Regions from separate parts of the Homo sapiens genome. Here regions 1, 3 and 4 are each reported to be linked to region 2. The links are microRNA targets in miRTarBase. Many come from high-throughput screens and were not tested one by one. Region 2 holds a microRNA gene; each other region holds the end of a gene's coding sequence.

What was found. The annotated mature microRNA hsa-miR-3116 reads UGCCUGGAACAUAGUAGGGACU and lies in region 2 at 3,328-3,349, shown strand. An mRNA with a match to its seed (bases 2 to 7 or 8) in the 3' UTR can be bound and repressed. Matches are read on the target gene's strand: a 7mer-m8 pairs with bases 2 to 8, a 7mer-A1 pairs with bases 2 to 7 and ends in A, and an 8mer does both.
Region 1: the mRNA of TMEM239 is a reported target of hsa-miR-3116. The part of its 3' UTR that is shown has no 7-base or 8-base seed match.
Region 3: miRTarBase lists ARL5A as a target of hsa-miR-3116. The part of its 3' UTR that is shown has no 7-base or 8-base seed match.
Region 4: the mRNA of LIMD1 is a reported target of hsa-miR-3116. The part of its 3' UTR that is shown has no 7-base or 8-base seed match.

Annotation. Positions count from the first base shown.
Region 1 is chr20:2,814,297-2,821,934 of GRCh38, forward strand. TMEM239 (transmembrane protein 239) reads left to right here and starts at 2,068. Exons shown (of 2, transcript NM_001167670.3): 1 at 2,068-2,119; 2 at 2,248-3,766. The coding sequence starts at 2,259. The coding sequence ends at 2,717. It overlaps C20orf141 (chromosome 20 open reading frame 141), which reads left to right and starts at 691. Exons shown (of 3, transcript NM_001256538.2): 1 at 691-721; 2 at 856-1,148; 3 at 1,242-1,534. The coding sequence starts at 889. The coding sequence ends at 1,479. RefSeq lists a silencer at 2,565-2,624 and a cis regulatory region at 6,998-7,379.
Region 2 is chr1:62,074,505-62,082,142 of GRCh38, reverse strand. It overlaps MIR3116-2 (microRNA 3116-2), which reads left to right and starts at 3,287; the gene lies at 3,287-3,354. PATJ (PATJ crumbs cell polarity complex component) reads right to left here. Exons shown (of 44, transcript NM_001350145.3): 32 at 2,576-2,693. It overlaps MIR3116-1 (microRNA 3116-1), which reads right to left and starts at 3,357; the gene lies at 3,284-3,357.
Region 3 is chr2:151,797,680-151,805,317 of GRCh38, forward strand. It overlaps ARL5A (ARF like GTPase 5A), which reads right to left. Exons shown (of 6, transcript NM_012097.4): 6 at 1,118-5,645. The coding sequence ends at 5,597. Among named protein-coding and RNA genes, the nearest start is that of ARL5A, 27 kb to the right of the region's middle.
Region 4 is chr3:45,672,993-45,680,503 of GRCh38, reverse strand. It overlaps LIMD1 (LIM domain containing 1), which reads right to left. Exons shown (of 8, transcript NM_014240.3): 6 at 6,999-7,050; 7 at 6,093-6,161; 8 at 1-3,582. The coding sequence ends at 3,445. It overlaps LIMD1-AS1 (LIMD1 antisense RNA 1), which reads left to right. Exons shown (of 3, transcript NR_033947.1): 2 at 433-1,458; 3 at 1,573-2,339. Among named protein-coding and RNA genes, the nearest start is that of LIMD1-AS1, 12 kb to the left of the region's middle.

The DNA of each region.
Region 1 (7,638 bases), not on the chromosome of region 2:
ATGATCAGTGTAATCTGATATACTGATAATCCAAGTGACTAAGCCCTTCATTATATGTTCATTTTCCTTAACTCCATTCTCAGACTGTAACCTTAACCTCTAATAAGGGGGTTACTAGGTCATAGTCCTCTTAAGTTCATGTCCTCTACCTCATTACTGGAACCCCAGTATGCATAACACCCCCTATAAACTGTAGTGCTTAGAATACCTGAACAGCCCCCTCCTCTCTCACCCCCATTTAGCAGGTTATGCGGAAGCCCAGCCCCAGAAGCCTCAGGCAGTCCCCTGGCAGAGCCCATCTCTGCAATCTGGAACTTCAGGCCTGAAAAATCCCCTAGAAGGACCCACAGGGAAGACAGCTGGGGACAGAGATATTGAATGACTTCGCCCTGGACCTGCAGCTCTGCAAACTCACAGGAAGAAGAAAGCAGACCTCGCTCCCTTGGACAGATGCCCAAGTAGTAATGGGGTTAGAATGCCTTCCTGACAACTCAGATCCCCAAGGGAGGGCCCTAGGGCAGAGAATCAGCAAAGGCAAGAGGATGAGTCTTAGTTCTCAGAAATCCCTGACTTCCCAGCTAAGCCCCACCTAGGCCACCAGCTGCTTATGAGGTCAGAGCAGCAGCAGCAGCAGCCCCCTCCCTACCCCACGGCCCCACGTGGTAACAGGTCACAATGCCCCGGGTGCCCACTCCCAGAATGCTGACCAAAGTGGGAGGAGGTGAGGAGGGTTTGCTGGGTGGGTATGGGGGAGGGGGAGACTCTGCAGGAGCCTAATTCCCCACTCTGAGCTCACCCTTCTGTCTGCCCGGGCCCTACCCCTTCCCCTACTCTCACCCTTATAATCCTTTTCAGCACTAGGTCTTCCCGTCACCTCCACCTCTCTCCATGACCCGGCTCTGCTTACCCAGACCCGAAGCACGTGAGGATCCGATCCCAGTTCCTCCAAGGGGCCTGGGTGCTGGGGAGGGGTCAGGTAGTCCAGTGCGTCCACCTGTATCCACCTGGGGCCCTAGCTGGGCCCAGCTCCTGGACAGTGTCCTATGGCTGGGGGCACTAGGACTGACAATCCAGGCAGTCTTTTCCACCACTGGCCCAGCCCTGCTGCTGCTTCTGGTCAGCTTCCTCACCTTTGACCTGCTCCATAGGTAAGTGGGCAGCAGCCTGGCAGGTGGGCATTGTAGGCGGGCGGGCCAGTGGACAACTTCCCTAAGCCCAGTCACCACCCTCTCTCTCCACAGGCCCGCAGGTCACACTCTGCCACAGCGCAAACTTCTCACCAGGGGCCAGAGTCAGGGGGCCGGTGAAGGTCCTGGACAGCAGGAGGCTCTACTCCTGCAAATGGGTACAGTCTCAGGACAACTTAGCCTCCAGGACGCACTGCTGCTGCTGCTCATGGGGCTGGGCCCGCTCCTGAGAGCCTGTGGCATGCCCTTGACCCTGCTTGGCCTGGCTTTCTGCCTCCATCCTTGGGCCTGAGAGCCCCTCCCCACAACTCAGTGTCCTTCAAATATACAATGACCACCCTTCTTCATCAGGCCCCCTTTTCTCCTTCCTGGCTGGGCAGGTGGGATGATACCCCTTTCTTCCCAGCCTGAACCTCACAGTCCTATAATATAGGTATCAGATACCTGGATCTGAGTCTTTGGGCAGCAAGAGAAGGTAGGATACTAGCCAGGGAGCCCAAGGAAGAATGTGGCAGCCACCTCAGAGCCTGTGGATTGGGGGCAGCCACTCTGGCCTCCTCTGTGGCTCTAGAGAATGAAGGTCCAGACAGAAAGACTTGCGAGAGAGCAGTTTGGAAAGGGGTGGATATCAGCCAGCAGGGAAAGCAGGAAAGGGACAGGGATCCAGGGAGGGCTTCCCATGAGAAAGCATGAGAAACTACATCTGCGGGGCTCCGAGGCTCCCCTGCCAGCCTGGAGGGTCCGTGCAGAGGGACTTGGGTGGGCCTCACACCCTACAGTGACTCCTCTCTTGGCTGGACCCCACCCCAGCCCGGGTCACAAAGGGGCTCCTCTGGGGAGGGTGGGGGTAGATGAGAGTGGGGACTTGGATCTGCCTGCCAGGCCGTCCTGGGCGCTGCAGGAAGCAACATGACTTAGGTAACTGCCCAGAGGTAAGTCCCAGTCCCTAATTCTGTAGCCCCACCCCACGCACACTGGTGCCCTCCTGACCCCTGCACCCCCTCTCTGCCCCCCCCCCCCAAGGTCCCAGGCATCTTCAAGACCCTGGCCCTCTCCCCAGGTGCACCAGACATGATGCAGCAGCCGCGAGTGGAGACAGATACCATCGGGGCTGGCGAGGGGCCACAGCAGGCAGTGCCCTGGTCAGCCTGGGTCACGAGGCATGGCTGGGTGCGCTGGTGGGTGAGCCACATGCCCCCGAGCTGGATCCAGTGGTGGAGCACCTCGAACTGGCGGCAACCGCTGCAGCGCCTGCTGTGGGGTCTGGAGGGGATACTCTACCTGCTGCTGGCACTGATGTTGTGCCATGCACTCTTCACCACTGGCTCCCACCTGCTGAGCTCCTTGTGGCCTGTCGTGGCCGCGGTGTGGCGCCACCTGCTACCGGCTCTCCTGCTGCTGGTGCTCAGTGCTCTGCCTGCCCTCCTCTTCACGGCCTCCTTCCTGCTGCTCTTCTCCACACTGCTGAGCCTTGTGGGCCTCCTCACCTCCATGACTCACCCAGGCGACACTCAGGATTTGGATCAATAGAAGGGCAACCCCATCCCACTGCCTGTGTCTGTTGAGCCCTGGCCTAGGGCCTGAGACCCCACGGGGAGAGGGAGGGCAATGGGATCAGGGCTCCCTGCCTTGGCAGGGCCCAGACCCCTAGTCCCTAACAGGTAGACTGGCCTGACCCCGGACTCCTTCCTCAAGTCAATGCTGCAGGTTCCTGGTGTGAGGGGCTGGGGGCTTTGAGAAGAGGGGGCAAGACAGATGGCTTAGCCATTGGTGAAAATTGCTTAGCCAGGGGCAGAGCTTGACCAAGCCACTGATAGCGCCCATATGGATGTGATGATACCCGTGGGGCCCCCTTGGCAACTGACAGCATCTTTTTCTCATAGCCACTCAGCTGTCTCAGCTTCAGACTCACTGAGAACTTCTACCTGGGTACCACTGGCCTTGCCATTCCTCCCACCAATCCCCTCTTTCCACTTCCAGGAGAACCACAGACTCTAGAGAGGGTCCCAGTGACAAAAATCTATCAGGGAGAAGGCTGGCCAGAAGCCCCAGGAGACCTCAACTCACTCGCTCTCCAAACCTTGCAGCCCACGCATCCTCCTCCCTAGACTTCCTACTTCCTGCCTCAGTCTGCATCCCCAAGTCTGAGAAATGGGCCAACTGGGGTCAGACAGCACCTACTCACTCTCTAAGAATCCCAAGGTCTGTTATGGAAAAATGATCAAGAAATCCCATTTCACCCACTTACACAATGTGTGGCCTTGGCCAATTAATTCATTTGAGCCTCAATGTTACGTGGGCCACTTCTGTCATGGGGTTGTTGTGAGTCAAAGACAATATCTATTTGTGAAGCATTTTGTAGAAGCCAAAAACCTGTAAGATGTTGTTTTGAGCTCTAAGAACTTTCTGTAGGCGCATAAGATCTTTTGACCCCAAAGACTGTTGAAGGAACAGGAAGCTTCTCTGGGCTTTCAGATCAACTCTCTGTCCTGGATAGAATTTTGGCCCTAAAATGGTAAACAAGAGGTCGGTTAAGTGTGTACAAGATGTAAAAGGTCATGTGCCATGAAATCTCAAAATGTGCAGATGTTGAACTATTTTGATTATGAAATGCTTGGGCCTGGGGCTGGGTGCCAGATGCTTGCACAGCTGTGTGAGTGGGGACAGCACAGCCCCAGGGTTTCCAAAACTGACCCAGCAAGCCGCTCAGGCACCAGAAGGGCTTTGGAAAGGGCAATCCTTTGATGCCCTGAATGCTGGCCGTTCGTTCACTTGCTGGCCCCTCCAACAAAACATTGAGTGATCGGTAATTACCAAGTAAGGTACATGATAGACAACTTTATCCACACCTGACCCCCACCCAAGCCCTGGCCATCCCCAACTCCTGCCCAGTTCTGATCCCTGCTTTATGTATAACCCTAAAATCCTTGCTCTTGAAGCCCCAGACCCAAGGTCCCCCTCTTTTGTCCCATAAATACTCAGGGCCTTGGGGCTAGCCCCTAGAACCCTGGTTCATTTTTGCCTTAGACTTTTGCAACCCTCCATGCCACGGATTAGATGCCTTCAGCATCAGTGCCAAAACCCAAGGTCCAGTCCTTCCTTTCTGTTTCTTTGTATTTCTCCCGCATTATGGCATGGTAGTGAGAGCGAGGTAGGACATGGGGCTGATGTGGTCTCATGGTTGGATGGGTTTTGGTGCATGAGCTGAGGCTGGGCGTGAGTCCCAGCACTCTCACTTACTAACTCCATGCCCTTAGTGGAAATCGCTAAACCTTCCTCAACTTCACTTTCCTCATGGGTAAAACTAAGGCAAGAACCCCTGTCTTAGGGCTCTGGCATGTGAGTGAAGGACCTGGGACCACTCCTAGCACCACAAATTATAGCTATGCTGTGACCATCCCATTTTAGAGATGAGAAGTCAGGCCCAGGATAGCCAGTTGCCAGTGGCAAGGCCAGGCCATCTGAGTCCTACCAGGCTACTCAAGGGAAGGTGAAGGGGGCAAAGGAAACACAAACAACCTAACTAACTGAAGACCCCAAGGCTTCTCAAGAGCTCCTATCAGAGCTAAAGCCCAGGCCTAGGGAAGTCATGAGTCAAGCCAATCTAGATGGCAAGCTGAGGATTCAGGATCCCATGTGGTGAGGGCAGAGACCAGGCTGCCTGGCCTAGATCCATCATTGACTTGGCCATGCATTGCTAGCCAGGGACGTTGCTCTGGAGCCTTGGGTCCATTCCAATGAAGGGAGAGAGGAGTTTGGGGCCCTGACCAGATGCTCTAGTGGATGGGATGTGGGCAGCAGCAAGGAGAAGACCTTCTTCCTTTCCCCACAGACTATATACCTTTTACCCTCCTGCCCAGCTGGTATGGGGTAAGGAGGTGCACCCAGACTAGAGAGCTGATGGGCAATACTCATCAAATTAGATCCACATATACCCTAGGACCCAGAACCCCAGAATGAATTTTCACAGAGGTCCATAAGGGCCTTGCCCCTCAAAATGTAGTCCCAGAATCAGCAACACAGGCATCACCTGGAAGCTGGTTGGAAATACAGTCTCAGGCCCTGCTCCAGACAGGCCGAATCAGAGTCTGCATTTTTTTTTTTTTTTTTTTGAGACAGAGTCTTGCTCTGTTGTCCAGGCTGGAGTGCAGTGGTGCAATCTCGGCTCACTGCGCTCCACCTCCCAGGTCCAAGCAATTCTCCTGCCTCAGCCTCCTGAGTAGCTGGGATTACAGGCGCCTGCCACCGAGTCCGACAAACTTTTGTATTTTTAGTAGAGACAGGGTTTCACCATGTTGGCCAGGCTGGTCTTGAATCCCTGACCTCAGGTGATCTGCCCACCATAGCCTCCCAAAGTGCTGGGATTACAGGCGTGAGCCACCGTGCCTGGCCAAGAGCCTGCATTTTAACAAGATTCCCAGGTGATACATTGTACCCTGTTTGAGAAGTGAAGCATAAGGGGGTATTATGAGAATGCCTATTGCACTGTTACTAGTGGGAGCAGGATAGGTAAAGGGAAGGGTAAAACAAGGCAGATGGGCCCAAGGGGCAGTAATTAGAAGGGGCAGAAGGTACATGAACCAATCTTAAAATCTTAGCATTGAAAAAGAAATGGAATGAGAATACAATTCCTCTTACACAAATTTAAAAGCATGTCAGCAAAACAAGACAATTTTTGGCAAGAACACATAAAAACGAAAGATAAACAGAATGGAATGGACAACTCTAGGGGCAGGCAAGTGGGAGTAGGGTATAGAGATAACAGGCAATAAAGCTAGAGAGCTTGCAGAGGCGAAACGTGATACCATCAACGTAATTCCTGAAATTCCTTTAAAAGTAGAAAAAGAAGTCCATTTAGAGTTAAAAGGCTTAAAAATGCAAGTCTGGGGAGAATGGGCATGGTGGAAGCCCTTCGGTTTGGGCCAAGAAGGGCGAGCCTTCCTATCGGCCTGTGTGTGACCTGGGCTGCTGGGTGGATGTGTTTGCCGGCCCTCCCCCACCGCACCCCGCAGGCTGCTCTCATGGGATTGGACTGTGGGCCGGGGATCCAGCAACAACTTCGGCCTGGCCGGAAAAATAAAGTCAAGGAGAGCATAAGGAACCGGAGCGGAGGCGGTGTCAGCGAGAGGGGCCTTGCGTCTCAGGAGAGGGGGGATCTACAGCGGTGCACACATGTGCTGGGGGATACCTGGGGTAGGGCTTCCCTCCGCCCCTAGGAACAGGGAAGGCGGCGTCAGGGGGCGCAAGCTGCTGAGGGGTACCCCTTCAAGAGATGGAGCGCCAGTGGCCACTCAGGAAAGGAGAGGGGTCCCCGAAAGGAAGAAGCCGTGCGACACCCAGGAACCTCCAAGGGCCAGCTGCGGGACATCGCGAGGGGGGCGCTGTCCTTTAGACTCGTGGGTGCAGAGAAAGGGGGAGGCTAGGAGAGGCCGAGTGGGGCTGGGGGTGGGGGAGGGACAGCCGGCCACAAGGCATGAGGGAGGAGACAGGGTCGTCAGGGAGGGGAAGGACGCCTGTGCGGCGCGCGCTAGACCAAGGCCCGGGGGCAGGGACAAGGCCATCGAAGCCGTGGTCACAGACGCGCCGGGAGGGAGGGGGCCACGTCGGGCGGCATGCGTTGAGGCGACAGGAGCGCCTGGTCAGACAGCAGCTGCTCTGAGGCGGGGGAAGGCGTGGTGGGGGGTCCCCTGCGGTGGGAACCCTGCGAGGACACCCGGGCCCAGGCGCGCGGAGCGGGGCGAGGGCGGCAGCTGGAGGGCGTCGAGGCCGGAGCGATGACCCTCGGGCAGAGGGGGACAGGCCAGGGTCTGAGGCTGGGAGAGAAATCCCAAGCCCGGCCCGGTTGGGAGGCCGTGGGCATCCACACGGGGCATGTGCTGGCGGCCCTGAAGCGCCGATGTCCCCGGACTCGCCGCACGCGGACTGGGGACCGACAGCGCGCAAGGAGAGCCCTCTGGCTCTGGCAACGAAGGGGCGGGCTTGGCGGGGGTGGGAGGAGAGAGCGCGGGGAGGGGTGTCCCACAGGCTAAGACTCCAGCACTCGGGGAGGGGCGGGAGGGTAAGAAGAGGGATCTTAGGGCCACTGTCATCACAGTGGCAGCTTCGTTGACTCTCACCCCTTGCCCCAAATCGCCGGCCTGCCGCCACTTCCCCTCACTAGAGACCCCTAGGCGTCGACGGCAGAGTTCCTGAGAACCCTGGAGAAGGAACGGCCTGATACTGAGCTGGGACTCCGACTCCTGGAACAGCCTGAGCCTGATATTATCCGATGCCCCTGAGGTAAAGAGCTGTCATTTGTGAGGATCTGACAGGGTCTGGATGCAGCCACCTTTGGACAAGTTTTTTGGTTTGTTTGTTTTTGTTTTTTTTCTGCTGAGCATTTTCATCTATATTCTGGAGCTCATACTTGCATCCTTTGTACTGATTCTGTTACCGACCCTCAAGGGGGTAT
Region 2 (7,638 bases):
TGGCAGGGGTGAGAAACTACAACAGAGGCTGTGTGGACCACAGCCTAAAATATTTACTATCGACTTCTTTATAGAAAAATCTTGCCAATAAGACAAAAAGAAAGGCTCTAGGTAAGATACAGGCAAGGCAGAATATTAAATTGTAAACCAAATTTGTCTTTAAATCTTTTTGCAGCATATGTATTTTATACCACATTTCCCATTAATTTACAATAAAAATGACGTACGATAGTGGCACACTTTCATGGGTGCTTTAAAAAGTTTCTATTGCTTTTAGGTCGGGTGCGGTGGCTCACGCCTGTAACCTCAGCACTTTGGGAGGCTGAGGTGGGCGGATCACCTGAGTTCAGGAGTTTGATACCAGCCTGACCAACATGGTGAAACCCTGTCTCTACTAAAAATACAAAATTAGCCAGGCATGGTGGCACATGCCTGTAATCCCAACTACTAGGAAGGCTAAGGCAGGAGAATCACTTGAACCCAGGAGGCAGAGGTTGCAGTGAGCCGAGATCACACCATTGCACTCCAGCCTGGGCAACAAGAGCAAAACTCCATCTCAAATAAATAAATAGATAAGTAAATAAAAAGTTTATACTGCCTTTGTAAATGACTAGCGTAGTCTCCTGAGTGAGAAGAGAGAAAAAAACCTGGTGAGACATCCTGGAGATGGCATTTCTTTTCCCTCCTCCACGTTTGCCTCACCCTAGCCAGTCCTGAGTCAATCTTTTTATTTACTTCTCTCATGGAATCCAGCCCCAAACCCAGCTCATACCAAGTCCTCAATAAATGCTTGGTAAGTAGATGAGTAAATGAATAAAATTTCTATAGATTCAACTGTAGGATGATGAACTTCATTTATTTATTTATTTGTTTATTTATTATTTAACCATGAGAATGAAAACCAGGAAGGATGCTGAATTTCTGTCATCTAAGTATAAATATGTGATATATATTACCAAAACTCAACTTGTCTACCTCCATAGTCAGCATGCATTGTTGGTAAAGTGCCAAGTATACATATTTTAATAGGGCATTACAGGCCAGACTGTCTCTGTTGTGACTACTTAACTCCATCATTATAGTGTGAAAAAAGCCACTGACAATACAGAAACAAATGAGTGTCTATAAACCTGTATTTGTGGACACTGAAATATGAATTTCATAGAATATTTTAATAAAATTTTCTTAGGTGTTTTTTCAACCTTTAAAAAGTGAACACCTTTTTTAGCTTGTAGACCATACACAACTAGCTGGTAGGCCAGATTTGACCCATGCGCCATAGTTTTCTGACCACATGCATCAAATGTTTTAGTACATCTACAATGCTTTAAAATAGTACCTGCTTGATGAACTTTATGAAGTTAATATTTATGAAAAAATATATAAAAGGCAAATACCACAAAGATTTCAGAACTGCTAAATTAATGCAGGGTTATGCTTTGCCATTGGTGAGTACTGTCTTTTAAAGAGTTTTATTTTTTACTGATGTATACTGCACAAAAGCAAAGTAGGGCTGGGCACAGTGGCTCACGTCTGTAATCCCAGCACTTTTGGAGGCCGAGGCAGGCAGATCACTTGAGGTCAAGAGTTTGAGACCAGCCTGGCCAACATGGTGAAACCCCATCTCTACTAAAAATGTAAAAATTAGCCGGGCATGGTGGTGAGCACCTGTAATCCCAGCTACTCAGGAGGCCGAGGCAGGAGAATCACTTGAACCCAGGAGGCAGAGGTTGCAGTGAGCTGAGATCAGCCCCCTGCCCTCCAGCCTGGGTGACAGAATGAGACTCTGTCTCAAAAAAAAAGAAAAAAAAGCAAGTAGAAATACCTATTATTCTTTATAAAGTTCTATTTTCAACCCCCAGTCAGCATAATTCAAGCCAGGAATTTAAAGACAGAATGTGCATGCCAATTTCTTTAAGCATTGAAAATCAACATTCTTCAAACAGCTTAAAGCAACATTTGCAGGGCTAAAAATTGGGTTTGATAGGATTTTTAAAGAGATATTACTCAAGACCTAAATATAATCTTTTGTAGAGATTAGAGAAGAATAATACAGAAGCCTCAGATTCAAATAACATTTACTGAGGTCCTTTTCTTTTCCTTTTTTTTTTTTTTGAGACAGAGTCTCACTCTGTCACCCAGGCTGGAGTGCAGTGGTGCAATCTCAGCTTACTGCAACTTCTGCCTCCTGGGTTCAGGCGATTCTCCTGCCTCAGCCTCCCGAGTAGCTGGGATTACAGGCATGCGCCACCATGCCTGGCTAATTTTTCGTATTTTTAGTAGAGACAGGGTTTCACCATGTTGGCCAGGCTGGTCTTGAACTCCTGACCTACTGAGGTCCTGTTCTGTTCTAGTGCTCTTATATTCAAAAAGCAACAGGCAATGGCGATGGCAGAGAGGAGGAAAAATGATGTAGGAAATGAAGTGACCTATCCAAGCCCCAAAGCTAAGGAAGCGGAGGAAGTATCCAGAGTCAGACTTCTGCCTCCTGGTCCAGTTCTCGTTTTAGGACATTATGATCCCTTGCCTTCTCTAAGGCTTAATGAGCCAGATCTGCTGAGAGAAAGAATCATACCATAGCCTGTGAAGTCTGCATCTGTTGAATGGTATGATGAAGCTGGTGCTAATGGTATCTCTTGTGAACTGAAGGAGACTTTTGTTGGATATTTTTGCTGTTTCATCTGGCTGACAGCCTACAAAAGAAAGGAAAATTAGATGAATATCAAAAAGGAGAAAGGTAACAAGAAAATACTTTAAAACTGGTGTATTGTTACCAAAACAATGGTGCAGTCCAATGATGTCTTTTGAGAATATAAGGTTGGAGGGTGGCAAGAAGTTAGGATGATTTATGCCTCGTTCCTCATTCTTCCCTATTTAACTTTACAACTAAAATGCTTTGATGAAGGGCAGATCAAGGAAGGGAGGAAAGATAAAAGCTGAAGATACTCTGTCAGTGTGATCTGTACATGAAGCTGGGGGTGGGAGGCAAAACAAAAATTATCTTGCAATTTCTACTCATTCTGATGAAATCAGCAAGAAGCCCCTTTATCTATGGACTTTGAAGTGACTTATCTGTGTTGTGCACATTGAAAAACAATCTACGCTGGGGATGTTTAGAGCATCAACACTGTCCATTTCTTCTGGACACACTAGAGTCAAAGATGCATTTGGTAGGTTAATTAAGCAAAATGAGGGGCAGACAAAGAAAACCAACACCTACTGAAAGCCTACTAAATGCCAGCTACATCAGTGACATTTAATTCACATAAAGGAAGCATAGCTCCTTTATTGAGTCCCTACTATGTTCCAGGCACCTACGATACCCAGTGCCTGGAACATAGTAGGGACTCAATAAAGTGCTTGATGAATGAATGAACAAGAAAGAAAGAACAAAGAAAAGCAAAACTGAAGACATGAGTAACTCAGGGTAGAAAGTGAACTTGCAATTCAGTGAAGGTACAGGGACCTCTACTGTGTGAGTTTGGGAAAAATTAACTTGTAATTCTGGATTTTTGCTGACAGTACCTCCAATGAATATTAATATTAAAAAACTAAGGGGCCAGGCATGGTGGCTCACGCCTGTAAACCCAGCACTTTGGGAGGCTGAGATGGGCAGATCACCTGACATCAGGAGTTCGAGACCAGCCTGGCTAACATGGTGAAACCCCATCTCTACTGAAAAAAATACAAAAATTAGCCAGGCGTGGTGATGCATGCCTGTAATCCCAGCTACTTGGGAGGCTGAGGCAGGAGAATTGCTTGAACCCAGGAGGCAGAGGTTGCAGTGAGCTGAGACCGTGCCATTGCACTCCAGCCTGGGCAACAAGAATGAAACTCCGTCTCCAAAAATAAATACATACATACATACATACACTAAGAAAAACCAAAAGGACTCCTTGCTTATTTAACAGGCAGTTAAGAAATATAGGTAGTAACCTGACCTGCCTTCTGGATCTGCAGTTGGCCAGGGAACCCATCCCCAGCTGGAAGAGTCTGGTAGTGAAGCACCAGGTTGCCCCTGGAGTCTAGAAATAGGACCAAGGTAACTGCTCCAGAACTGTAACACCTCAAGATTCTGTCAGTGGAAAGCTGTGCCTCAATACAGGGCATTGTGCAGTGTGCAGTAACAACAAAACAATACCATCCATTGTGCATATGCACTGTGCTTTCTAGTTTTCAAAACACTTTTACATCCATAAATTCATTCAATCACATGAACAACCCCGACAGTTAAATATTACTTTTTTTCTTTTTGCAGAAAACCAAGCATAAATGTCAAGTGACATATTTGAAATCACACTGCTAATTAGAGAAAGAGGTAGAACCGGAAGTCAATAGTTGAAGAATGCTACAAGCTTAAAGTGTTTATCAAACAGCTGATAGGCAATGATTCTATGGAGTTTTTTTGTTTTTTCCTGCAGTTTTTCTATCACCATCTTCTTTTTTTTTTTTTTTTGGACAGGGTCTCACTCTGTCACCTAGGCTGTAATAGTTGTGTGATCTCGGCTCACTGAAGCCTTGATGTCCTGGGCTCAGGTGATTCTCCCACCTCAGCCTCCTGAATACCTGGGATTACAGGCGCACACCACCACGCCTGGCTAATTTTTTGTATTTTTAGTAAAGATGGAGTTTTGCTATGTTGCCCAGGCTGGTCTCGAACTCCTGGACTCAAGCAATCCACCCACCTCAGCATCTCAGAGTGCTGGGATTACAGGCATGAGCCACTGTGCCCCGCCACTATCAGCATCATTTAATATTGACTAAAAAGAGACTTTTTCAATTACATATTTATCAGTGATTTTTAAAGGAAGAAAGTAGAAAAGGACAAATAAGGGGTTACTATAAGAAAACAACATTGAGAGGACTTAGATATCCAATTATTCTAAGGACCACATTTACTAGCCTCATTGAAGGTAGGTGTGCCAACAGGCTAAGTCCTGGTCAATGGGATGTAAACAGAAGTGAATGTACAATTTTTAGGTCATTCTCCTAAGGAGAAAGATCCTGTCTTTCCCTTCTCACTGCTTGGAATACAGATGTGTTGGTAATAACTGAAGCAGCCCTCTTAAACTAAAGAATGGATGCCACCATTTGAGGGTGGTAGAGTAATCAAATAAGAATGGTATAGTAATCAGATAAGAGGTGCTTGGGTCTCTGACACTTTGGAGACACCATATCATTCCCCAACTGACCACACACAGCCACACACAGACTCTTATGCTAAAGAGAACTTCTTGCAGCAATTGAGCCTGTGTCTTAACTCACACAGTACTTACCTCCAACTTACATTTTATATCACCTCAAGAAAGAACATGGATTCCCAACAAAGCTGGGTGCAAGCCGCAGAGTTCTTTTATGAAAAATCACGCGACTTTTAAAATAAGAAAGCACTAAAGAGAGCAATCTAGATTACTAAATTACGACTTTTCTATAGCATGAGATGATTGTTGCTTTTCTTTATATCCCAGTTTCATGTAGCATCTGGTGCATAATAGGTCCCTGATAGATACTGGTGGAATTGAATTCAATTTAACAATAAGGAAGCAGTCCATAGAATCCAAGTGAAATGTCCAAACATATATACATAGAGGCTGGCCTCCAGTTGTCGGTATGTGTGGTGATGGATGAAGGAGTGTTCCCATGACTCATTCATTGGCACAAAACCAAACTACTGTGTAAGAAAGATCAGAAAGAATGGATTTGCTGTTGTATGTTACTGTATTATAAGAACTGAGATGGACTTTATAGGTCATCCAACCTAACTAAACCTGTGGTTTTCAACCCTGTTTCATAATAGGAACACCTACGGAGCTTTTAAAAATTACAGATGCTAGGATCCCCATCGCAGGCAAAATAAATTAGCATCTAGGGGTGTGGGTCCCAGGCAGGTTTTTTTTGTTTTTTGTTTTTGTTTTTAATTGAGACTTATTGATTAAGACTTAATCTTCTTTTAAGAAGCCCTGGCTTAAGAATCCATGGTTTAACTTTAAACGATGTCTCAAAAACAAAACAAAACAAAACAAAACTTGCCTGGGATCCACATCCCTAGATGCCAGTTTATTTGGTCTGGGATGGGGGTCCTAGCATTCGTGATTTTTTTTAAAGCTCTCTAGGTGTTCCTATTATAAAACAGGGTTAAGAACCACTGGTTTAGTTGTAAAACACCCTTGTAGTTGTATCAAAATTGTACTTGTCAGTGTTTTTCTTTTCTTTTTTTTTTTTTTTGAGACGGAGTCTCGCTCTGTTGCCCAGGCTGGAGTGCAGTGGCGCGATCTCTGGTCACTGCAAGCTCTGCCTCTCGGGTTCACATCATTCTCCTGCCTCAGCCTCCCGAGTAGCTGGGACTACAGGCACCCACCACCACGCCTGGCTAATTTTTTGTATTTTTAGTAGAGACGGGGTTTCACCGTGTTAGTGAGAATGGTCTAGATCTCCTGACCTTGTGATCCACCCATCTCGGCCTCCCAAAGTGCTGGGATTACAGGCGTGAGCCACTGCGCCCGGCCCTTGTCAGTGTTTTTCTAGAGAAAGGATTTACACTTCATCAGGCCCTCATGAAAGGAAAATAAACATCACTACTCAAAAGAAGGTATATGTTGCTAAGTTTGCTATCACTAATTAGCTGTGTGACCACAGACAAGTCACTTGACCGCCCCATCTATAAATTGGTGATACATCTATATCTTGCAAGGTTGTTGTAAAAATTAAAGGTAAATAAATAAACCCATCATTGTGCCAGAAATAATTTAGGCTCAATTAATAACAGCTATTAATGCTTTTATGTCCTTTTAGAACATATCAATAAATGATCAGCCAGCTTCTGATTGAAAACCTTCAGGGATGGAAAATTCCACTTCCATGAAGAAGCTCATTCCATTTTGGAGCAGCTCAAAGGGTGGAAAAGTTCTGTATAATGAGCTGCCAGCCTCACTGCAGATGATGCCCACTGACCTCTGGGCCATTTCTCTTTGGAAGCTGCAGAAAGGACTTAAAATCACTTTCCCAAAGGAGAATAATTTAGATGTTTAGGTGCTCATTGTTCTGCAAGAAGAAGAATGTAAGATGATATTTAGGATTCGCCCTAGCTCTAAAATTCTATGGTTGTAATATTTTAGAGATGTTTGATATGTGCTTGAGGTAGGTGGGAGTATATGAAGTTTTGTTTGTGTGTTTGTTTTTGAGACAGAGCCCTGGTCTGTCATCCAGGCTGGAGTGCAGTGCTGTGATCTCAGCTCACTGCAACCTCCGCCTCCTGGGTTCAAGTGATTCTCCTGCCTCAGCCTCCTGAGTAGATGGGATTACAGGCAGCTGCCACCACGCCTGGCTAATTTTGGTATTTTTAGTAGAGATGAGGTTTTGCCATGTTGGCCAGGCTGGTCTCGAACTCCTGACCTCAGGTGATCCACCCGTTTCAGCCTCCCAAAGTGCTGGGATTACAGGCATGAGCCACTGTGCCCAGCCGGGAGTATATAAAGTATTAATACCTTAATGTATTTGCAAACACATTCAAGCAAAACCTGCTTTTAAATTTAAAAATTATAATTGGCCAGATGCAGTAGCTCACAACTATAATCCCAACATTTTGGGAGGCTGAGGTGCGAGGACTGCTTGAGCCCAGGAGTTTGAGGTTAGAGTGAG
Region 3 (7,638 bases), not on the chromosome of region 2:
TCAATGCTGTATCTTGGACATTAGCCTAAAAAAATATCTTTAAAAGTGCTTTGCAGGTATCACCTCATCTCATGGAACCATAGAGGGATCTAAGAAAAGGCTACTCCAATCTAAAGGACTATTTTCAAGCAAAAATAGAGGAATTCTGTGTATCATCAATGAAAGAAGTTTAGGGGAAGGGTATAGTACATATTACAATAATTTAAAATCATACGCACATTTCACTTTCCATGCACGATGATTTTAACATGAAACAATGTAACTATACATCACTGAAAATACAATCAAGCTTTGCCCCAGAACTTACAGCCACTCTCTATAGTCAGTTAAGAAAAACCCTGGAAGAATATATGATAAATGTATTCAGATTCTATTAGTTTTATTTGTAAGCAGATTCTAAACAAAGAGGATGAATTTGGGCACATATACACATGCACAAATGAAATGGTTCAACATCTAAATGATATGACACAAAATTACCACTATGAGAATCAAGAGGCTACTCTTATGCAAGCAACAAACTTTTACTTATGATTTCAAACATACAGTTTAATTTTCTGTTAAAACTGTTTTAAAAAACAGTACTAGGGTTCAGTTTTCTAGTCTCGGCATGAACTAATGCCAGGGACCTATTTGAATTAGGAAAGAGACAAAATGGTGTGATTCGTGCTTCATTACATCATGGTTTGTTGAGGGTTAGGTGAATATCTTCCATTTCAAGACTTTTTATTTAGGCCAGGCGCGGTGGCTCACACCTGTAATCCCACCACTTTAGGAGGTTGAGGCGGGCAGATTACGAGGTCAGGAGATTGAGACCATCCTGGCTAACACGGTGAAACCCCATCTCTACTAAAAATACAAAACATTAGCCGGGCGTAGTGGCAGGCGCCTGCAGTCCCAGCTACTTGTGAGGCTGAGGCAGGACAACCGGCGTGAACCCAGGAGGCAGAGGTTGCAGTGAGCCGAGATCGCGCCACTGCACTCCAGCCTGGACGACAAAGTGAGACTCTGTCTAAAAAAAAAAAAAAAAAAAAAAAAAAGACTTTGTATTCAAATAAAGCACAAATTGTGACAGAAATCCTCTAGGCTGTGTCATCAGTTAAGACAAGCCATACGATACCATAGAAAATACATATAATTTATTAGATGGGCTTAAAATCAACACAAATCCATTTTTAGGCACTTCTTGAGTACAGACTATGGGAATTTTCTACCAAAGAACAGGATATCTAGCAAGCAACAGCATAAAGATTTAAACTTTAGTTTTCAGAACAATACACAAGGGCTAGACATTGATAAGAAATACTGCATAACTAATCCAAGTGTATCCTGGAACATTTCTTCACAATCTGACAGGACTTTAGGGTTAACTAGAAAGTTACTTTTTAGCATCCAAAATTGTAATTTCTGGCTTTCTTTCCTTTTTACTCTATTATCATGGTCTTAAAATAATCTATCGCACATTCTTTGAGGGAGCATGATATACAAGTTTTATTTTTGTGTAAGTGGAGCTTCAAAGACATATTTCTCTATCTGCATTTACAGTCAATGCATGACAAGTGATTATTTCGATGTCTTTAAAGCCCATTTCAACAGGTTTATTTTTTAAGGATAGGCTTTTCATTACTAACTCCTTTAGACATCTAATGTTTATCTCTGTTTTGTAAGTAAACATGAAAAAAAAAATGGGATGTGGGCAATAGTTTCAAGAATGCCCTTAGATTATAGACTACATATAAATTTGGTTTGGCATCTTTTTCCAAATCAAACTGAACTGGTATTCTGTGAAACATAACCATTCTTGGTAGTGGGAAGATAATACACATAAAACTTAATCCTGCCCATGCCTAACTAGTAGCTCACGGAAGTGGTAGAGTCTGGGTATTTCTCCTATCTTTCTGAATCTACTTCCCAACATGTGAAGTTAAATTAAGAAGCATGAAAATGTTAAATATAATTTAAAGAATTCTAATATTGGCATCTATATGCTATACACACTGCAAGCTGGTCTTCTGATGGACTCCACATCTCTGATAATGCTCTCTAATGAGCAAAGTCCAAATCACTACCTCAAGCCAGTGGTGAGAAGATAGCAAGGAACTAGAAAAGCTACATAGAAACCACTGGTTTGGAAACCATTGTCTATAACAATAGTTACAAAGAAAGTTTAGAATAACCTCCAGGACAGAGATCTCTTCACTAATAGTAAATGAAGATACAGGAGAGCAAAGGATACCTGAGCTATGGGGAAGCTGACCTTGAAAGCAATGAGGTCCAGATTACATTTGGAGAGTGGGAGAGGTCAAAGTTACGAGGAGAAACTTGTCTCTACCCAGCCTTGAAAAAGTGATTGATGACAACATACAACTGGGCAGTTGAGAGAAGACTGGAGTTTGGAGATAACCGATGATGTGGTATTATCTCCTGTATACAAAGCAGAGCCTATTACACGTACATTCCCAAAAATGCCTCCAGAGAAAACTAGAAAGTTGTCTATAGATTTTCTATTTACACTAATATAAACAGGTTTGGAGGTTGTCTGTACTGTATGTGGTTGCTGTAGTGACAAGAAATGTAAAGTGCCTATACAAGAGGGAACAATAGAGTCCTATTTCTAGGCATCTTAATACTATATGCTGAGACAAAAAGGAAAACAATGTCAGGGACTTCATGCCTTTGCTCAAGCTCTGTGCATTTCTCTGGGTCTCAAATGACCTACTAGGCACTTTTTAAAGGCCAGAAAATAAAAACTCTTCTTCCCTCTATTTCATCCCATGCTTCTAAAGTCACTTTCACTGCCTATATTAAAAATGCCAGCCATCAGTGCTAAAGCACTTTTATATTCTTAAGGCAAAATGTCACATAAGAAAATGAATCCCCTATCCACTTCCCCACTATAACCCCTATACAACCTGCCTTCGTTGTATCCTTTGCCCATTATGAGGACCAAGAGGTACTGGGAAGATAAAGAGAACTGAAAATTTCAAACAAGAACCCTCTATATAATGTGTAAGATGTACTTTTACAGATGCTATTATGATAAAATTAAACATATTCAAATGCTTATAGCATATGGTTACTTTTGCCCAGATATCAAAAGAAGTTACATGACTTTCAAAATTAGTATCAAAAACAGGATATTTAAATCCAGCCACATGTACAGAACTATGAATCTTTGTTCTTCTCAGAGCTGAACACAATGACTCCACGAGATGTTTTCACTCAGAAGTGGCATATTAAAAACCCAAAAGCATCTCCCTCTGCTTAATTCCACTTAAACTACATAAAAATTGCCAATATGACTTTTCACCAGCTTCTCCATTTTATTTGAAAATAATACTTTTAAAATGATTTTGACATTTTCATATATAAATTTATTTTTTTCCCAACTATAATTTTGGTTTTATGTACAAGTACACAAGTACCACCTTATTTTTAATGTTTACCTTGAAGGGTAGAAAACAAAATCATGTTTTATAAATGTGGTATAAAATTACACATCTTCTCATGATGTCATGTCAATAATCCACTACACTAAACCAACTGTAACAAGGTAGTACATGCTTTAAACATCCAATTAAGAATAAATCTGAGCCAACACCTTGATGATGACAAGGGAATGTGCTGATATCGTGTTAAACTGATGTGGCAGTAATCCAAGGGACTAAGCACATGATTATTCAAATTAAAACATAAAAAGGACAAAAGGTGTGGATTTTCTGGGCTACATCACATAATATTTGTCTGGCGAAACCATAATACAGATTTGGGTAAAGGAGATTTTTAATAGATAACAAGTAATTCTTTATAGGGATTTGAGAAAGTACGAGAACATATGGGAAAAGCTTAGTAATTTAAGATTTACTTTTGTAAAACCATGTGGACAAATATTAAATGTTATGCTTGCATTTTGAACATTATAAATATAAAACATAAAACATCCAATGTTAAATACTGATATCCCATGCCTGACCTGGATTTAGATATTGAGTATTTCCCATTTTAAAGAAAGAAACTTTCAAAGTTTTGTCAATACTTAAACTATATACTATTATTCCTCACCAAAATCTTCATGAAATTTAAAAGGCTGATATTGAAGGTAGTTTTTTTTTCTCAAATATGCTAAAACATGTGAGTTTGGATTAACCTTCAGATTTTCAAGGCATGAAAGATACATAAATAGAGTACCCAAGAATATGTTTTAACACATTTAGGATAAGTTTGTTTACAGTTGTGACAGGAATACCTTTGACTTTCAGACACTGAAAAAATATACCCTAAGCAAACATAAAAGGTGTTTTGGGTCAAGTTACTTCTTAGTACAAATAATACGTTGTATCAATCAATTTTTAAGCCAAATTCTTAAAATCATTCAAAAAACACTTGCATTTTATAATTGTCAATGCATTTATGTAATAGAAGATACAACAAAATTTAGAAATAAAAAATCTCACACTATATTCCAAGTACCAAAATAAGAAGAAATTTGCAAATTAAGAAATTATCAATGTTGCTCAGAAACATGCCTTACTTTTACTCTGAAATTCACTTTAACTGCTTGACATATAATTTAATACTTAAAAATAATATAGCTAAGTTGTTTAATAGTATTTATAGAATGCTACTTTTCTGGGTAGACATGTTTCACAAAACAGTTTTCAATTAATGCTGAGCATTCATTTGATAATTGTAATCATAATTTGATTCACTGATTAATGGATTAATAATTTATTCAGTAATTTAGATGCCATAAGAACCACTGAAAGGAATAATCTGATAGTTGCTCATTGTACAATCCTGCCTATTAGTAATACTAAGCCAAGAATCTGCTAGCTTTCCCACTCTGTTGAATTACATGTTTCCATGTGTGTGATTTTGGTCAACAACAAAAAATCGATACACAATGTCATGCTTTTTCCTTTTCCTTTTTTTTTTTTTTAAACAAGCAGCTCAGCGATTTGGGAGGTTGGTTAGTACAATACAGAGAACACAGAGAGAAAGTATAAAATGGCACTGAACACTAATGCCAATACTTATCTCATTGTGGTTATAACGAAGGATATTATTATTTGTGTTATTTTTGTCTGGAACATAAATCAATGCCATTAACTTGAACTTGAGGTATATACACAATACACACACAACCTTAAGCAAAATACTTTTCATAAGTAACATTACATTTTAAAATATTGGAAACATTCGAATATCTGTGCTGATTTGTATTCTGACTTAATGGAACAAGAAGAAAATAACATTCAACTAGGGAGGGTTAAACTGATAATAAAGCTCTTAAAATTCAAAATGTCTTCCTCTCCCTTTGTACTTACCATAGGCTACACAATGTCCTGAGAGGATTCATTATGAGAAAAATGTCAATCACAGCTTCAATAACTTACTTTGGAAAAAACTAATGAGAAAGCAAACTGGAAGGTGAGACTTCATCTTTGTTTTCAAATAAGTGGTCTTAATTTTTCTTCTTATAGAAAAAGTTTAAATCAGTTTATTATAAATATATCTAAACCATTAATTTTTGCAGCTTTCAGGTAAAGTCCAGCACTTCATTTATACAAAATCTATGAGAAGAGGTCAGTAGAGATCATCTAATCTTAAGTCGTGACATCATCCATTCAAGTCCTTGGCACAATCTATAAAGAAAACAAAATCATTTGATTAAATTCTGAACTAAGAAGCTATGAGCAGCAAACTATGAACAGCAAACTAAAAGAGAGCATTTTTCATTTAGCTAAATAACAAAGATTTAAAAATCAATAATATTCAGTGCTTGGGCTGCTGCAGTGAAGCCATATTCTCATACACAATACATCTGTGCTTTTTTTGTCTTTCCTCTTTTTTAGACAGGGTCTCACTCTGTCACCCAGGCTGGAGTGCAATGGCACAATCAATGGCAGCCGTGACCTCCTGGGCTCAAGCGATCTCCCCACCTCAGCTTCCCCAGCAGCAGGGACTACAGGCGTGTGCCACCACACCCAGCTAATACATCTGTGCTCTTTTGGTTCAGTTATATCTCTAGCACCCAGAACGCTGTCTGACACTTTAAAAAAGCTTTATAATTATGCAATGAGTGCCCACAGAAAGCAACATATGTCAAAAATATATCTGGCAATACGTATCAAAAATATTTAAAATATCAATACTCTGCATCCTTTTTTCTACTTCTAGAAATGTATCCCAAAAAAGAAAATCAGACATAAACATAGACTTACATACAAAACTGTTCATTAAAGTACTTTTAATAGGAAAATAATTTTTGTCTAAAAATACAGAAAAAAATAAATTACAAGACATTTGTATGATGAAATATTTAAAATTTTCCTTTAAAAAATGATTTCATAATTCTCATCACCAGGAAATGGAGGAAATAAAACCATTTTATAATAGGATAAAATGCTCATGATATAAATGAAAAATGGCAGGATATTCAACAAAATATATATTGTAGTTATTAAAACAAAGTATACACATGTTACATAAATATTATAAAATGTAAGTATGTAAAACTTTTGAAGGCAATAAAATTTCTTATCAGTAACATCAGTTATCACTGAACAACTGGTAATTGAACATAACCCAAAATATAGAAAACGATGTTCACTGTGGGAAAAGAAACTAAAAGTTGAGCAAGAGAGAAATGGTTGTACACATTAAGTTGCAATAAAATGAAGAACTGTTATAAGTATTAACTATTATCTATGACAAGCTTTTGCAGACATAAAAAACTATGTTACAATATTAAATTTTTTTCAATTCAGAGTTTTGTTAAGTATGAGTCTAATAACGTAAAAGAAGACACAAATAGAAAAAAGATGGCAATGAGGTAAATAAATGGTTGTTTTGGGGTGGTTGTCCCATACTTTTCTCCTGTGACTAGATTCATTACTTTTAAACTACTGATAGGAAACAGTACACAAAAATAATAGATGAAGAGATTGTTTAACTCCAAACTGATAAATGAACAGTAGTTACCTAATAGCAAACTAGAAACTAACTTAATATCCATTCTCTTAATTAATCTTTACAACACTGAGATCAGAATCCTTCCAATGTTACAGAGGAAACCCAGGGTTGGCAATGTTAGCAAATGGGAAAAGTAGGAGTCAAATGAAGCCACACACTGAAGTTTGTGATCTCCAATCCACTGAATCAAAACGCTAATCAATACTAAAACCAATAATTTAGATCAAGGTAGCTGAACTATAAAAGAAAAACAGAACATTTCTCTCAAAACCAAACTCATCTATTATTTTCCTATTTTTAAAACAAAATTGCTTTACCTCTTTTTAAAATGAAATTGAGTTAATATCTATACTAATGATACATTTTCCATACAATTATCAAAGTATATAAATTAAATCTTATGTCAATCCTAGATGACGTGTCTTTATTGACAAATATTATAAATCCATGCTTTTGCTTGACAAAGATATATATATTAGACTATTTGACAAAGAAATACTTAACATATTTTTACTTAAATGAATACATGGATAATTGGTATTATCTGTGATTTTTTTAATGAACAGTTTTTTTTTAATTAAAAAACCTTTTTTAAGGTTCTAATTATGCTCTTCCAAATGTCAGTAACAGTGCCTTCTATTAAGATTTGCCTTCAATAATTCG
Region 4 (7,511 bases), not on the chromosome of region 2:
CTCTATTAAAAATACAAAAATTAGCCAGGCGTAGCCAGTCATACACGCCTGTGGTCCCGGCTACTCGGGAGGCTGAGGTGGGAGGATCACTTGAGCCCAGTAGGTGGAGGCTGCAGTGAGCTGAGATCGCGCCACTGCACTCCAGCCTGGGCAACAGAGTGAGGCCCTGTCTCAAAAAAAAAAAGAAAAGAAAAGAAAATTTGGTTTCCTGGCAGATAGAGTTTTAACAAGCGCATCAAGCAGTAATAATTTGTGGTCTTGTGCTCAATTCTCACACATGATCTTTGCAAGCGTCCCAGCAGCCATCACAGCTCTACTTTCACATGCATGGGACACAGCACAGAGCAGCAGCCTTGAAAGGACTGCAAAGAGGTGTGAATTCCAAACATTCTCTTAAGTCCTAACATTTCTGTTCTTCATTTTGTGTGACAGAAGCCCATGGAAACAAGGCGATGACGGCGCTTGAGGGTGACCAGACCTCCTCAATCATTCCATCAGCCACCCAGGACTCAACAGCAGAACCTCAGAGGACTCAGCTGAAAGAGGTTTTCACTCGAGCACTAACCACAGAGAAATGGGAAGTGCCATCCTGCTGTCATACGCAGCCGATGGCTGGGTAGGACTAAATGCCCTTCTGTGGTGAGATGAACCAAGACGGCAGATGGGGGAATAACATCAGTGAGAGAGAGATTACGAATGGATCCTTGTATTGCAGATCAAACTGGGTTGTCTCTTCTCAAACCACCCAGGCAGTTTCTGAATGTCCCAAGATAGGGGTAGGAGAAAAGAAAAAAAAGACAAAACAGGAGACGGTGGGTAAGAAAACCTAAAAGGCACAATGAGGCAAAGGCCTAAGATGGAGGCTGGCTTTGGGATCTGAAATCCGGCCACAATCCTCCTTGTTTTACCTCAAGTCCAAGAATTGTCAAAAAGAAAACCCAGAAGGGCTATTCATTCTAAATTTTAAAATCTTTTCTTCCTGGCCTACCAAGTCCTTGTGTTTTCTTTCTAGGCGCCCATAAATACAACCCCATTACAGTTCTATTTGGCTAATAATTTACAGAACATTTAAAATACCGGGTAGGTGAACATCTCTTCATGGCTTTTGTGTAAGGGCCTGAAGCGAAGAGAAAAACAACTGATTGGAGATTCCTATCTGGCGCCTTCTCCAGGGAAACTGACAACCAGAGAAATCTGTTGCTAGGATTTCTAGGACATCTGGAAATTCCCTTTTTGTTCTTTCTCAACAATATAAAATGGTATATTCGCAAACCTATCTGAATCACCTCAATCTAGGCCACTTTGAAAATTTCATTTAAAAATGTAATCACAGATTTTTAAACTAATTACCCAATTTGCAAACAAATCCCAGCTACTTCTGGTCTTGAACATGGAGCAAAGGTGTGTCAGTAAGGCCAACATTCTTAGGTTGACAGAGACAGGTTAACACATTGGCTGGCTTCATTTACCCCCCTGCCACGCCCCACACTGAGCTGGATGATTTGATGGGAAGAGAGGGTCCCCACCTCAGGGTTCACTTCCCCAGCCCCAGCGTTCATGGGTTTTCAGGAGGCTCAGCCTGTGAAAAAGAACCAATGATGATGCACACCCTGGCTGAAGTGACATCTGGCCAAAGGATTCCAACAGAATGAATTCCATCAACATGGAAAAGATAATCCATGGCACCAATTCTGTGCTGCTTACAGGCAATGGTTACCAAATGAGTCAAAACATGGCCTAGAAGTGGAGCCGGGCCCAATGAAAAGCCTGAGTTCACACGTGCTAGGGGCTCCACTGACCGGCCTCTGCAGCCCAGCACCCAGTCCTCTTGCTCTGGGTGCAAGGTGAGGAGGCAGAGTGCACACACCGGCTCCTGTGTCCCCGGCCTGGCTGGCAATGGTAAAATGGGCTGCCTTTCTTTTGCAGCTTCTTCTAATCGAAATACCAAAGGGTACTGACCTCTGGCCTCAGGGATGTGACTTGCAGTGCAAATTTTACCTCTTCAGTGCAGAGAGTGGTCTTGAAATCTTGCCAGTGTGTGGCCCTCCCTCAGCTCCTGCCACCCTGGGGAGCCAGGATGCTGAAATGCATAAGGCAAAAGCACTGAATCGGATCTATTCCCCACTGACCTTTAGTTACGATCACTCTGCCCTGACCAGCTGGAGTTGGGCCTGTGTGAAGCCAGTGATTTCCAACACACTGAAGAAGGTATCTGAGTCCAGTGTGAAAGCCAAATTCCTCCTGAATCTGTGATTTGGTGAAGCTCTGTGAGGTATTTTTTGTGTGTGGAAGACTGAAAGTGAAGGGAAACAACTAAAAAAATTAAACAGACAAAAGCAGTGTACCTTATCCTGGTTTCTTCAAACATAATGCCTGTGCCAAGAATTGGGCAGGAGAGAAACCAACGAAATGAATATAATAACTTATCCTGAGGCGCTCCCTCCCACGCTGGCTTAGAGATCTCGCACACACAAAAACTCTCCTTGTTTATAAGAAGCTGTCTCTCAGTATGCGGGCAGCTCTTCCCAAAAGCCCGTCATTAAATAAGCTAAAAACAGGTGCAAGCGATGTACCTGCATGGGTTCCTGAGACTTGCCTTGCAGAAGCGGCCTTCCAAGTCACCAACTCTTGAGAACTCCAGAGAAAAACAGCGCAAACACGTGGGCAAAAAAAAAAATCCTGGTGCCTGCACCAAGTTCTTCTCCCAAAGTATGTTTTACTCACATAGGGCAAATTTCTGTCGCGGACTCAGCTGCCTTTAGGAGAGTAAGGATTTGAAGGGGTACAGAGAATGCTGTCAGTGTCTAAGGAGGAAACCCTGCCTCACCTATTTCAAATCTTGACTCTGGTTTTCTAAGCAAATTTATCTTAGGATACAAAGCACACATTAGAGCTTCCTTCTTGCCTTAATGCAATTAAATTTGCAGCCATTCTGCAGAAGAACTGAAGCTCTCAGGTGAAAAGAAGCCTTAAATCATGCCATGATATATGTCGGGGGAGGGAACATTTGGGTATAGGTATTTTCCTGAAGGAAGAGAAAGGGTTGAATGTATTGGCAGCTGAGCTGTCCCTTCAAGGGGATATTGTGAAACAAGCTCAATAAAAACCTCTCCCTCTGAAGCATGAAATGTTCCCAGAGGGGACAGGAGGATTCCTTTGGTGCTATGATGCAACCTCAGGTCATGTGCTCGCACATGCTGGAGCATTTTCCTGAGTAACCTGAGGAAAATGTGGCAACAGAGAAAAGCACTTGGAAAATACACGCAGGAGGCAGGTAGTGTTCACCTCCCTGGTTAAAGGAAAGGCACCCCCCACATGCTCACAGGAACTCTCCCTCCTGCCCCTCCTCTTCCCCTACCCCACTTCCACCCCAGGGGCCACCGGAAGCAGCAGCAGCAACCCCGGCTCCTCATCCCCTGCCGTGATGTCTGCAAGTGGCTCTGGCTAGAAGTGGTGCTGGTGAAGGGCTGTAGATGAGGGTCTCTTCTCCAGCCTCTTCACGTGGCAGGAGTGACAGAACAGGTGGTCCTCCAGCGGATAACAGCGGTGGCCATCTTCATCATTGAGCTCCAGACCACAGTCCTGTGGGGAGGCAGACATGTCCAGGGGAAGCAAAACAAAACAGACTGCAAGACTGACCTGAAGGCCACAGTCCCCAAAATCAGCAGAGGGTGCTGTGTGTTTCTGTATAGGCAGGAAATGCCAGTGCAGAAACACAGCTCCTGCCCCGTGGAGGCCTGTCCAACACAGGAGACACTGCCACAAGGCACTTGCTGTGAACCACTTAAAATGTGCTGTCAGTGTAAATGCAGATTCCGAAGACTTAGGACAAAAAGAGGATGTAAAAATATCTCATGGGAAAAAGGAATGAGATCATGTCCTTTGCAGGGACATGGATGAAGCTGGAAGCCATCATTCTCAGCAAACTAACAAAGGAACAGAAAACTAAACACCACATGTTCTCACTCATAAGTGGGAGTTGAACAATGAGAACACATGGACACAGGGAGGGGAACAACACACACCAGGGCCTGTTGGGAGGTGGGGGTGAGGGGAGGGAACTTAGAGGATGGGACAATAGGTGCAGCAAACCACCCTGGCACACGTACAACATATATCTATGTAATAAATCTTCACACGTATCCCTTTTTTTTTTTTAGAAGAAATAAAATAAATTGTGGAGTTACAAAAAAAATCTCATGGGTAACTTTTTTATATTGATTACATGTTCAAAAGATAACATTTGGATTTTTTTTTCTTTTTTGAGACAGTCTCCCTCTGTTTTCTAGGCTGGAGTGCAGTGGTGCGATCTCAGCTCACTGCAACATCCACCTCCCCCGTTCAAGGAATTCTCCTGTCTCAGCCTCCCAAGTAGCTGGGATTATGCACGCGCCAACACATCTGGCTAATTTTTGTATTTTTAGTAGAGACAGGGTTTCACCATGTTGGCCAGGCTGGTCTTGAACTCCTGACCTCAAGTGATCTGCCCTCCCAAAGTGCTGGGATTACAGGCATGAGCCACCACGCCCAGCAGGATTTTTTACTTTTTTAAGACAGGGTCTTGCTGTGTCACCCAGAGTAGAGTGCAGTGACACGATCCTAGCTTCCTAAGTAGCTGAGACTATAGGCACAGCATGCCTGGCTAATTTTTGTATTTTTAGTAGAGACAGGGTCTCACTGTGTTGTCCATGCTGTTCTCAAACTCCTGGGCTCATGTGATCCCCCTGCCTCGGCCTTCCAAAGTGCTAAGATTACAGGCATGGGCCCATGCCTGGCTGGATATTTTGAACCGAATAAAATAATTAATCTCACCGGTTTCTTTTAACGTTTTAATTGTGACTACCAGAAAACTTAAAATGATACATGACTTTAATTTGTGGCTCTCATAATTCTTTAACGTTTTAATTGTGACTACCAGAAAACTTAAAATGATACATGACTTTAATTTGTGGCTCTCATAGTTCTTTCTTTTTTTGAGACGGAGTCTTGCTCTGTTGCCCAGGCTGGAGTGCAGTAGCATGATCTCAGGTCACTGCAACCTCCACTTCCCAGGTTCAAGCAATTCTCCTGTCTCAGCTTCCCGAGTAGCTGGGACTACAGGCGTGTGCCACCACGCCCACTAATCTTTGTATTTTTAGTAGAGATGGGTTTTTGCCATGTTGGCCAGGCTGGTCTCGAACTCCTGACCTCAAGTAATCTGCCGGCCTTGGCCTCCCAAAGTGCTGAGATTACAGGCGTGAGCTATCGCGCCCGGCCCCTTATATTTCTTTTGGATAGCACTGGTCTAGAAAATGTGGAGAGGCCTGTTGAGCAAATGTCCTCACCTTTTTCTCCTGCAGTGACCTGGGGCACCTGGGGTCCCAGCAGCAATGATTCCCACCCATTTCTTCAGTGTTGGCAGTGGGACAAGTCTATATGAGGGACACCCCCATTCTCTACCCACAGGGTCACCAAATGAATCTAATCTCCTTCCATGGGTGAATTCACTTAATTGTGGCTGAAATTCCATGGTCACCCTTCACAAGGGTTGGTGAGGGGCAACCTCTAGCTTTCCTGACAGTCATCAGGTACTAGTGCTCCTTCATCTTGGGTTGGGACAAAGGGCAGGAAGGGGCAGGCGGACCCCACCCGCCTTCACACCACCAGCTGACATGCCTGTTTCCAAGAGGGGCTTCATGATTTCCAGGGCTCAGCTGAGAAAGGAGCTTCAGGCAGATAGAACAGCCTGCAAGCTGGAGGGGAGGGAGTCCCTTCCCCAAATCGCACACCTGCCTGACAATGTGGCCCGCAGATAGGACCTGAAACCCATGCTCTCCACGACCCTCCTAGCTCTGCAGCTTCAGGGAGAGCAGCTCCAACAGTTGCAGGACTTGATAGTTCTGAATATGCAGAAGAAAGACCTTTATACCTTGAGCATTTCCATCTTCTCCTACCTCCCCCAAGAACCAGCCTTCATTCCATTTCCTACAGAAGCTCTAGAGGGCTGACCCTTGCCAGAATCTTGTTGACTGCCTCTTGCCCCAGTCAACGCAGGATGCTTTTCTCTTGGATGTCTACAATGGGCTTTGGGGGCTGGGTGGGGAGGGGTCTACCTCGCAGTGGTAACACTCCACGTGGTAGTCTCTGTCCATGGACACGACACGGATGGTCTCATCTGAGCCCTGGGACCAGAGAAAAGCAAGAACACATAGGAGAGGCCTGTTAGGGGGGCTGTCGGGCTTGATGTACCGTGGGGTGGGGAGGGAAGAGGGTTTTGGGGGTAACAAGTAGGTGGCCTTGGGAGGAGAAGGTAAATCAGGAGTACTTACTGGAAGAAGAATACATTTAAGCTGATGAGAGGGGAAGTAGGAGGGATAGGAGTCCTTCCTTCTAGAATGTCAGAGTTAACACTGAAAGAAAGACCTACATGGACACTTATTTTAAAAAATGAAGAAAAGACAAGCCTTTCTCCTCATCTGCTAATCTAAGAATTAGTATCAAGTAAGGGAGTTTGACCTGGTTATGGGGACAAATCAGCACAAGAAGGGTACTGGGTTGGGGAAGCCAGTCAACAAGGAAGGGTGAAGACACGACTTATCTCAAAGGTGAAGTGGGGTTTTTTTTGGTTTTTTTTTTTTGGAGACAAGGTCTTGCTGTCACCTGCTGGAATGCAGTAGCACCATCATAGCTCGCTGCAGCCTCAAACTCTTGGGCTCAAGCAGCTAGGACTACAGGCACATGCCACCACACTTGGCCAATTTTTAACAATTTTTTGTAGAGATGAGGTCTTGCTATGTTGCCCAGGCTGTTCTTAAACTCCAGGCCTCAAGCAATTTTCCTGCCTGGGCCTCCTAAAAGGGGTGGGATTACAGGCGTGAGCCACTGCACCAGGCCAGAGTTGAGATTTTTAAAAGGATACCTTAAAAGCTGTAAGGACAGGACATGGATCTTGTAAATGAGCCCAGGGAGATATTCATGTCTTAGAAGCCCCTGGGAGCATGTCTGGAAGGGCATCTTACCTCAGGTGGAAGGATGGGAAGCCCACAGGCTGCACACTTGGGGGCCAGCACCCTGTGGGGAGAAACAAAGCAGCAATAAATGTTGCTTCTGGGAGCAAATTCCAGAGTCAGACTTGCACTTGGAATCCACATGGAGCCTTCCTCCATGCCGCCTCCTGCCCCTTGCTCTCCTCCCTCATAGAATGACTGGTACCTGGCTCACTTTGTGGAATATGCCTTAGTATTTGCTCCCCAGCTGCAATGAGGACACTGGCTGCCTCTCACTCTTCTGGGGACAGCACTAACTGATTTGTTTACACCTCTCATGGTGCCTAGCACAGGCCCAGGCAAACCAAGAGTGGTAGGAACCAGCACTGCATAGGGGCCTTGTGAAGTTAGGTAACGCTGAAGCCACAGGGCTTGGTGGATTCCTCCCGAGGCCTAGCTACAAATATGATTATTAGTTTTTCTGTGCTCTGTTGTTTTTTTTTTTTCACTAAACATGATTCTTTAACCCATTCCTGTCAACACTGG